Linked DNA regions of Homo sapiens. The protein of the gene in region 3 purifies or fractionates together with the protein of the main gene of each other region. This does not show direct contact. Each region holds a gene or a part of one and is shown on either strand. Other genes may lie near its edges.

Region 1 (2,620 bases), on a different chromosome or scaffold from region 3:
CCTCAAGTCAGTAATAGTCTCAGCTATTCTTTGTATTCAGAGTTTTTCACCAACTTAAATGTATTTAGAAATGTGAATGGAACTGAAAAGTCAATTTTTTAGGGACTTAATTAAAATTAAAATGCATTTTCTTATATAGATTTATATAATACATATTACATTATACATAATATATAAATATAAGAAATATTTATAAGATAAATGTATAAAATATTTATAAAGATAAAATACCGTAAAAAGTATATAAAATCTGGGATGAGAACAAAGGGCTGACCTTACCTTTGATTTAGTGTAAATAAACCAAAGGATTTTTAAGGAAAAAAATAAACCAGTCCTTCAAAATAAGGATTTAGTATGTAATTTAAGGAAAGAAGCGATGGCCAGCGGCCGTCTGCTGAGCGGTGAGAGCCTGGTTGAGGATGAGCTAACAGCCTGCTTTGCTGTCTTCTCGGCCACTGTCAGCTGCTGTGGTGGCTCCAGCCGCGCCTGGTTCTCAGTGGCCACACGCACAGCGCCTGCGAGGTGCACCACGGGGGCCGAGTCCCCGAGCTCAGCGTCCCATCTTTCAGTTGGAGGAACAGAAACAACCCCAGTTTCATCATGGTAACGTGAAAGTTTATTTTTGTCTGAAAGCTTTCATAAGTATTTAAATCAACACAGTAATCAACTATTTAATTGCTGCAATCGGTCAAAATTTACAAAAGCCACACACAAATTTCTCTCCTTCTACACGTAGCTCCATACACTGCCCCTTGCCAAACACCCTTCCGGGAACCAATCAGCATGACATTCCTGGGCAGTTAATGTGAGAAGCGAGGGCAGGGCACCGTCCAGGTGGACTTTATCCTTCAGGGAGGGCCGTATCCTCTCCTCTTACACTCTGTGTGTGTTTAATTTTCTAAAGAAACAACCATTTATTCATTAGCTATACTCAGCCATCTTCTCTTATTTTCTAAACATGCCCATTTGACCTGGCAGAGAACGCTGCAGCTTTTGCAGGTTGATAAAAGATGTTTCACTTAATGACCACTGGGCGTTTTAACTCCTTTCAGCCATGGGCTCCTGCATCCAGCTCATGATGCTGGTACGACAGGTTCTTTTACTTCATAAAAAGGTGGAGGAAACCCTAACATTTTCAAATTCAAAGTAAATGAAAACATTTGCCACTGTTGTTCCACATAAAAGTATCTGCAAAGAAAAGCCCATGGAGACGACCTGGACACATGTATTTCTAGGGAACAGATGCTTAGTTGAGCATCAAGGGGCAGGAAGACACCTTTCCCTCCTTGTTCCTCGCTGACCGATGACCCTGGAACTCCACGGTGCCTCTCTGAATCTCTGTTATGGATCCCCCACTATATTTGATGGGAACCCAGTGAGCCAGGGGCCAGTTTTGACAGGTCAGTGTCCCAGACATTTTCCACTCAGGCACACTTGGGCCTTACTTGTCTCTCCTGCTGGAGCCTGGGCTGGTCGGGGGTGAGCTGTGCAGGGAGAAGGCTGGGCCCCCTTGGTCTCAGGTGAGGAGGGCCCGTTCCCTGCCTCACCTGAGGGGGACCTGAGAAGGCAGTCTTCCCTCTGCTGTTTCTAAGACTGCGGTGTTCAACGTGTGCCTGGTGCTCTCAGCATAACTTTCCCTTCTCCTTTCCAGGGTAGCATCACGCCCACAGACTACACCCTCTCCAAGTGCTACCTCCCACGTGAGGATGTGGTTTTGATCATCTACTGTGGAGTGGTGGGCTTCCTTGTGGTCCTCACACTCACTCACTTTGGGCTTCTAGCCTCACCTTTTCTTTCTGGTTTGAACTTGCTCGGAAAGCGTAAGACAAGATGAAGAGCAGGCGCCATTATAAATATCAAAGCCCAAGAAATGGAACTTTGGGCAGAGATCATGTTAGAATCAAGTGGATGATGAGACCAATTACAGGCCGTCTCTCTGCACAGCACAGAAATTCTCAATCACTGAAATGAGTAACTGCAAAATAAATAGTTGATTGTACTGTTCTCATGCTATAAAAGTGGACAGGTACTCTACAACAAATCTGTTTTCTCATTTTTATCAAATATATGTATCATCAAAGGTTGCATCTGTACAGTATGTAAATGCTATTAATGTCGTCACTCACATGCACGACAGTCCTTGTTCCCCCAGGAAGGGCCTGGTGGCCCCAGCACACACTTGGGATTATGTGTATACATAAATAAATATTGGGCTGTTTCCCTCTTCCTGTGAAGTGGTTCTCAAATTCCTATGTACTGTAAAGCTGTACCCTTAAAAGTACAGATGTGGCCGGGCACAGTGGCTCACACCTGTAATCCCAGCACTTTGGGAGGCTGAGGCGGGTGGATCACTTGAGGTCAGGAGTTCAAGACCAGCCTGGCCAACATGGTGAAACCTCGTCTCCGCTAGAAATACAAAAATTAGCCAAGCATGGTAGCAAGTGCCTATAATACCAGCTGAGGCTGAGGCAGGAGAATCCCTTGAGCCCGGGAGGCGGAGGTTGCAGTGAGCCAAGATCATGCCACTGCACTCCAGCCTGGGCAACAGAGTGAGACTCCGTCTCAAAAAATATATTTAAAAAAAAAAAAGTACAGATGTGATGTGCAGAACATATTGTTT
Region 2 (3,659 bases), about 17 Mb from region 3:
AGGATGCTTTGTTTTGGTAGGGCTGTATTCTGCTTTTAAAAACCTTATTTTTTATTTAATTATAAGGACAATGTGTATATGGGGTTTTCCCCCTCAAACTTGAGAAAGAATAGAAAGTTACTAAGAAAAGCCACCTATAACACCATGATAGATAACTATTATTAACATTTTGTCAGGTATACCCCTGGTCTTTATGTGTGTATTCTTAATATCCTAAACTATTAAGAGTCCATTCTAAACACTCTCAGCCTGGCTCTTTCTTAAGAACTTACCGAAATGTAATCTGCCTCACCATCTTATTTCATATAAGATGATAATAGAAGTCATCTGTTACCATTGCTTCAACTTTTCTACTCTTCTGCTTCATTTAAATGTGTAAATTTGTAAATTACAGTATCTTACTCTCTGACTCAAAACCTCCCAGTAGCTTTTCAATATACCAAATAAAATTGAAACCTCTTACTGTGGCTTATATACCTCAGACCAGCAAAGTCCACTAGAAATACAACGTTAGTCACAAATGGGAGCTACATTAAGTAATTTAAAATTTTCTGGTAGCCACATTATGAAAAAAAGAGAAACTGGTGAAAATACGTTTTATGTAACCCAAAAACTATTATTTCAACATGTAATCAGTATAAGAAATTGTTGATGGGATAGTTGTCTTTTTTTAGACTGTCTTTATAATTTGGTGTGTATTTTCCACTTAAAGTACATCTCAATTCAGACTAGCTACATTTCTTTTTTTGTATTTTTTTTGAGACAGAGTCTTGCTCTGTCTCCCAGGCTGGAGTGCAACGGTGCGATCTCAGCTCACCGCAACCTCTGTCTCCTAGGTTGAAGTGATTCTTGTTCCTCAGCCTCCCGAGTAGCTGAGACTACAGACATGCACCACCACGCCCAGCTAATTTTTTTTTTTTTTTTTGAGACGGAATCTTACTCTGTTATACAGGCTAGAGTGCAGTGGCACAATCTCGGCTCACAGCAACCTGGGTTCAAGCGATTCTCCTGCCTCAGCCTCTCCCCAGTAGCTGGGACTACAGGTGCATGCCACTACACCCAGCTAATTTTTGTATTTTTAGTAGAGAGGGGGTTTCAGCATGTTGGCCAGCCTGGTCTCAAACTCCTGACCTCAGGTGATCCACCTGCCTAGGCCTCCCAAAATGCTAGGGTTACAGGTGTGAGCCACTGCACCCGGCCTAAATTTTTATGTTTTTAGTAGAGACCGCGTTTCACCATGTTGGCCAGGCTGGTCTTGAACTCCTGGCCTCAAATGATCTGCCTGCCTTGGCCTCCCAAAGTGCTGGGATTACAGGCGTGAGCCACCATGTCTGACCCAGACTGGCCACATTTCAAGTGCTCGGTAGCCACATATGACTAGTGGTTACCCACATGGACAGTTCCATCTTATAAAAGTACTATAACCTAGTTATCTGTTGGGTGTAACTTAAGTTTATTATTTTTTTCTTATTATTATAAGTAGTGTGATAAATATAAGAGCTACTACTATGTATTTGTCATTGTTTCTTTCGGATCTAGTCTGTCTTACAATCACTGAATCAAAGCATATGAACATTTCTTAAAGTCTTTTCATAAATATTGCCAAATTTTGTCCTTAAAAGTTTGACTAACATCAAACTTTAATATCAAATTTGACTAAAAATATGACAGAATACACATTTCTTGTATATCTTTACCAGCATTATCTGTCTATCCATCTACCCTCCATCTTTCCTTCCCTTTCTATAGGAATCATCATATATTTCTTTAATTAATTATGATGGTAAATAAACCTGGATATTGGACATCTTCTAGTTTATCTTTTGCCCATTTTGGCTGGTGTTTTATATTTGTGATACCCTTTTAAACTTTTTATATTTTTAGGATTTAGGATAGCAACTCTGCTATATACTGCAAATATACATATACACACAAATATATATACACATGTATACATACACACACACACACACACACACGTATGTTTGGGTTTTTTAAAATGTTTTTTGAGACACGGTCTTGCTCTATCACCCAGGATAGAGGGCAGTGGTGCAGTCATGGTTCACTGAGGCCTCTACTTCCTGGGCTGAAGTGATTATCCCGCCTCAGCCTCCTGTGTAACTGGGATTACAGGCGTTCCCCACCATGCCTGGCAATTTTTTGTGGAGATGGGGTTTTACCATGTTGCCCAGAATGGTTTCAAACTCCTGGGCTCAAGCAATTTACCTGCCTTGGCCTCCCTAAGTGCTGGGATTACAGGTATGAGCCACTGGGCCTGGCATGCAAATATTTTTCCTGGCTCTTCATTTACCTAACAGTGTTGTCTTTTCTCTTGCTCTCTCTCTCTCCCCCTTTTTTTTTTTTTTTTTTTTAACAAAACAAAAAAACAGGCAAGGGTTTTTACTTTTTAAGAAAATTAGGTTAATACTTTCTTTTATGGCTTCTACTTTGCTTTTATATTTAAAGGCTTCTCCTACCCAGTTAAGTTTTCTTCTAGTTCTTTTACGGTTTCATATTTCACATCTGTCTTTTTCTGTTCATCTGGGATTTATTTTGACATATGTGAAGTGAAATAACCTCCCTTATTTTTCCTTAAAAATTTTGGCCCCACTAAAAAAAAAAACAACTTGTTGCCTTGAAATAAAGCTGCCTTTATCATATGTTAAATGCACATCTTCTTGGTTCTTTTTAGGTTTTATTGAAATATCAATGATTTGGTACCAGTGTACACTTGTATACATGGGGCATGGTATTTTCATTTTGTAAACAAGTGTGTTTCTGTTATTGTTTAAGTCTCCCCCCCATCCCCCTTTTTTGGTTGTTGCTTTGTTAGTCCTCAGATTTTTTAGTTTATTCTTTTGGGGCTTCAAATTAGTTTTGGTTTTGATTTTTTTTTTTTTTTTTTTTTTTTTGGAGACAGAGTCTTACTCTGTTGCCCAGGCTGGAGTGTGATGGCATGATCTTGGCTCACTGCAGCCTTTGTCTCCAGGTTCAAGTGATTCTCATGCCTCAGCCTTCTGAGTAGTTGGGATTACAGGGGTGTGCCACCACACCTGGCTAATTTTTGTGTTTTTAGTAGAGATAGGGTTTCATCGTGTTGGCCAAGCTGGTCTCGAACCCCTGACCTCAGGTGATCTACCCACCTCGGCCTCCCAAAGTGCTGGGATTACAGGCGTGACCCACTGTGCCTGGCCAGTTTTGAATTTTTTAACTTAAAAAAATTGCAACTTTTATAATATTTTATGTTTTATAATGAAAAAATGTAATCCTATTGAATGTTCCTCTGAGCATAGCTTTAGCTATATTACTTAAATTTTGATGAGTAATATTTTTATGTTTATATATTTAAAAACCCCTGCAGTTGCAGTTTTTATTTTTTCAACAAGTATTTAAGCACCTGCTCCATCTAGACATTCTGCCAAGTGCTGAGGACACAACTATGTACAAGACAAGGTCTCTTGCCTTCATCCAGTTACAGTCTGTCAATATAGACAAACCAACGAATAAAGAATTTTCAGATTTCGACAAGTGTCTAGGAAGTAAATAAATAATAGAAGGTGCTAATTGGATGATCTGAGACTGTCTCTCTGAGGATGTCATGTTTAAGTTGATTGGTGGTACCAAGGTGTGTATGGGAGTTTCTTTAGCTTTCCCAATCT
Region 3 (3,659 bases):
CAACTCGTAACCTTTGTCTCAGTTTCATAATCAATAAAATAGGAAAAACTACAAGGATGAATAATTAATTAAATTAGTCAGGATTAAATGCTAGCAAACTGCTTTGAAGTTACTTTATGTTGTTCTCAGTTATCTTCCTACTCAGTAAAACTAATAGATGAGAAAACATCTGGAATTACTATAGATAATCACATCTGCAGACTCACAGCAGTTAAAAAGACGATCTCTACAAATTTCTAAGCCAAAGTTCATTCAACGACCCCAAAGATTTTAAGATACAACCACAATGAACAATTTTAGGTGAATTTCTTTTCAGTCTCAAGGACACCTATTCTTACCTACATTCTCAAAAGAAACCACTACACAGAAATCTCAGAGCATCTTGAGGGGTCTTGGCACAAGACAATTCTAGGTAAGATGAACAAGCTGTTACTGTTGTTAATGCTATTCTCAGCATTCTAAACTGTCAATCAAGGTAAGCTTAATCACAAACACACCCTCCAAAAAGTACTAGCCCCTACTGAGAACCCATCAAAGTACTTCCTTCCAAGCCATCTGTCCAGGAAAGCTCTATTAACACACCTAGAATGCAATTGCTCTCCTGTCTAAAGAGGCAATGAATAAACATAAAATATCAAAATATGTTAAACAGCATACCTTTTCCACTTCAAACAATGATAATCTACCGACTAAATCTATTTATTTCAATGCCTTGGTTGAACACAAACCTGTATGTATGTAGGTCAGAGACTGCAGCTTAATCAAAGGAGACTAACATTTTGTTTTCAAAGAAGGAAAAATATTAAAAACAAACAAACAAGCTCAAGAAGGGGAGAAAAGCTCAAAAAGAAAAAAAACGAGCAGGTTAGGTTAGGGGAAATGTACATGTTAATCAGCTCCTGATGGAAGAGGGACTCAAATTTTAAAACAGGAATTTAAATGACTCACTGAGCTACACACTAAATTACTCACTGGTCTACTCACTGAGCTGCAAACACTATAAAAACATAAGTATTTCTAAATCTAGCTTGAAGGATCCAAAATCAATCTTTTATATTCCAGTGGAGAAGGAAATTACATACATTTCAATGAGGAAAAAGGAGGCTGTTACACGAGCCTAAGGCTAATGGTGTACAAGCAAAGAATGAGAATAAATTATTTTGAGGATAAATAACAGGAAACCACACCAAAGAGTTCGAATTCTTCCCCCAACTCCATCATTTCTTCTGCTTAGACCATGAAGGATGTTCTGTATACACTATTAAGCATATTATTAGGGAAAGAACTTCTCATCAATGTGTCAAAACTTCTTCACAACAAGTAAATGTTAGGCTCAATCTCTATACTGAAGCTTCTTTAAACAAAACACATACATGGAGCACATTCTAAATTTCACACATTTCACATCCATGAGCAATCATTTAGAGACTCTAGAAATAAGCTGAGATTGCTCTAAGATTCTGGGGGACGGGGTTGGGGAGGAATACTGCAGAAAGACTAGAAAGACATTTGACTTAAGCTTTATAAATATTACCAAAAAAGTTTAAATTCTTCAGAAGGATATATAAAACTCAAATACTACTTTTTAGAATTAATGTGAAAAAAGTATCACCTGTCCACTGATTTTTAACTACCCCATCCACATTTACAACTAAATTGTCCACCTGCCCATCTATAAATACAGACTGCCAAAAGAACACAAATTCATTGTGATAACAACACTGCAGATGGTCATTTGCTCACAATCCAGCCAACGTTTACTGACTAAAATACTGGGAGTGCGGGCTAGTGAAAGCATTCTGGGGAAAGTTCACTCTGCGTTTATTTTCAACATAAAGACCCTGCCAGACACATCTAAGTGATAGTTCCTTTATTTATCAGGCAAATATTTACTAATTGCTCTATTAAGTATTAGGCACTTAATAAAGACATCATAGAATGTTACTAAAAAGCAGTAAAAGCATTTGACCTAATGACAAGGAAATGACTGATTGTATTTAGAAAATTTAGTCCACTGGGCAAACGAGTGTTAAATGTAGGTTGTGGAGAAATACGATACAAAATAACCCATCACTCCATCAAGGTTGATTTCTTCTCTTTATCACAACCTGATCAGTCCATTACAAATTTATTACCACTGACAACCAATAATCAACACCTCATCCTACTGAATGGATCTCTTAAAAAAGGGTTTATCTCCAGTATTTTGGGTGGAATTATCTGCAGTTTTTGGTGCAAAATTGCAGAACATTTACTTGATCTACACTTACTTTTCTTGGGTAGAGTAATATGAAGGCAAGTGTGTACTGAAAACTTAAAGAGGCACTCTCAACTCATTGAAGAATTAATCAGGGAAAAATTAGCATGCCTATCCTACTAAATATCTCTAATTTAACTGGCTGTTTAACCCAAACCCTCAAGTTCAAATGCTTGGTCCTTGGCTTTCCTTAGTTATCAAAACACTTGCATTCAGGGCATCTTTTTAAACAATTTTTGTTTTTTCCCACTGGTTAAACTCTTTTACCCACAAAAATAAGGAATGCCCAAGCCTCCAACTTCTGAAAATAACATCTGGTATGTGCACATAACAAAAAGCTTGAGAGAATGCCCTTTTATTTAAAACTTTTTCATTTTAAACTAGAATCCCTTAAGCAACAATTAGACATAAATCAGCCTTTACGTTATTAGGAGATAGCTATTTTCAACATTTACCTTAAACCACATGGATGTATCTTCTAACTAGTTAGCTTCCTGTCTCTCCCCCAGCTAGATTAGACTGTTAACTTTTTTGGCAGCAAAGGACTACTAGAGCCCATGCTCTATTTCCCAGCTAATACATTTCAAAAACCTCAGGTCTCTACAGAAACATAAACGTTGGTAGCCTTAAGGATTTCTCTAATTTTTTAAAGTTATTTTGATATGAGCAGGTATCCTTAACTGTTAACTATAGCTTACACAAGTGGGTTCTCAAAGTGTGGTCCTGGACCCCTGAAAGTTTCCAGGACCCATTCAGGGGATCCAGAAGGTCAAAACAATTTTCATACATAATATTTAAGATGTTACTTTTGTTTACAGTCATTCTCTCACAAGCATGCAGTGGGGTGTTCCTGAGGCTGCATGATGTGACATCTCAAGAGACTGAATGCAGAAGCAATGTAAGAATCCAGCTGTCTTCTATAAAGCTGAACAAAGAGTTACAAAAAGGCAAAATAATGCCATTCTTCCCACTAAATTTTTGTTTTGAAAAACATTTTACATAAACTGTCAATTTATGTTATGGGTGTGGGTCTATTATTATTTGTAAGCATATTAATAAATACATATTTTAAGTTTTTCTCAGTTTTAATTTCTAATAAACATCATCAACAGATATAAGCTACACGAAGGCTCTTCAGGTGCTCAACAATTTTTAAGAGTGTAAAGGGGTCCTAAGATCAAAAAGTGTAAGAACCACTGTCATACACAATTATATAACCCAACACACAGTGCCTTCCATGGATAAGAAGCTCATGCTAATTCTGAAGTATAATTACTTCTTACTTCTTGTAATCTTGTTGAGTTCTGTATCTCCCTGTAAAGCATCATTCAGCATAAAGCCAGTCTGTTCTAGTCCCCATTTAATGGGCTTTGGATATTTAATTATTCAGAGTCCTCTTTAC

The links.
Region 1: the proteins of USP3 (region 3) and GNAL purify together in Homo sapiens (affinity purification with mass spectrometry; one large-scale study listed by BioGRID and IntAct). This does not show direct contact.
Region 2: the proteins of USP3 (region 3) and ZFAND6 fractionate together in Homo sapiens (co-fractionation; one large-scale study listed by BioGRID). This does not show direct contact.

What each region holds. Positions count from the first base shown.
Region 1 is NC_000018.10:11,883,659-11,886,278, reverse strand, and holds the end of GNAL (guanine nucleotide-binding protein G(olf) subunit alpha), read right to left. Parts: 3' UTR 1,835-2,620; coding exon of another isoform or gene 1,652-1,834; 3' UTR 1,251-1,651; coding exon of another isoform or gene 1,236-1,250; 3' UTR 604-1,235; downstream 1-603. Other genes in the region: MPPE1 (metallophosphoesterase 1), read left to right, coding at 463-603, 1,652-1,834. UniProt on the Homo sapiens protein: Guanine nucleotide-binding protein (G protein) involved as transducer in olfactory signal transduction controlled by G protein-coupled receptors (GPCRs).
Region 2 is NC_000015.10:80,062,651-80,066,309, forward strand, and holds part of ZFAND6 (AN1-type zinc finger protein 6), read left to right. Parts: intron 1-3,659. UniProt on the Homo sapiens protein: Involved in regulation of TNF-alpha induced NF-kappa-B activation and apoptosis. Involved in modulation of 'Lys-48'-linked polyubiquitination status of TRAF2 and decreases association of TRAF2 with RIPK1.
Region 3 is NC_000015.10:63,507,528-63,511,186, reverse strand, and holds part of USP3 (ubiquitin carboxyl-terminal hydrolase 3), read right to left. Parts: intron 1-3,659. UniProt on the Homo sapiens protein: Deubiquitinase that plays a role in several cellular processes including transcriptional regulation, cell cycle progression or innate immunity.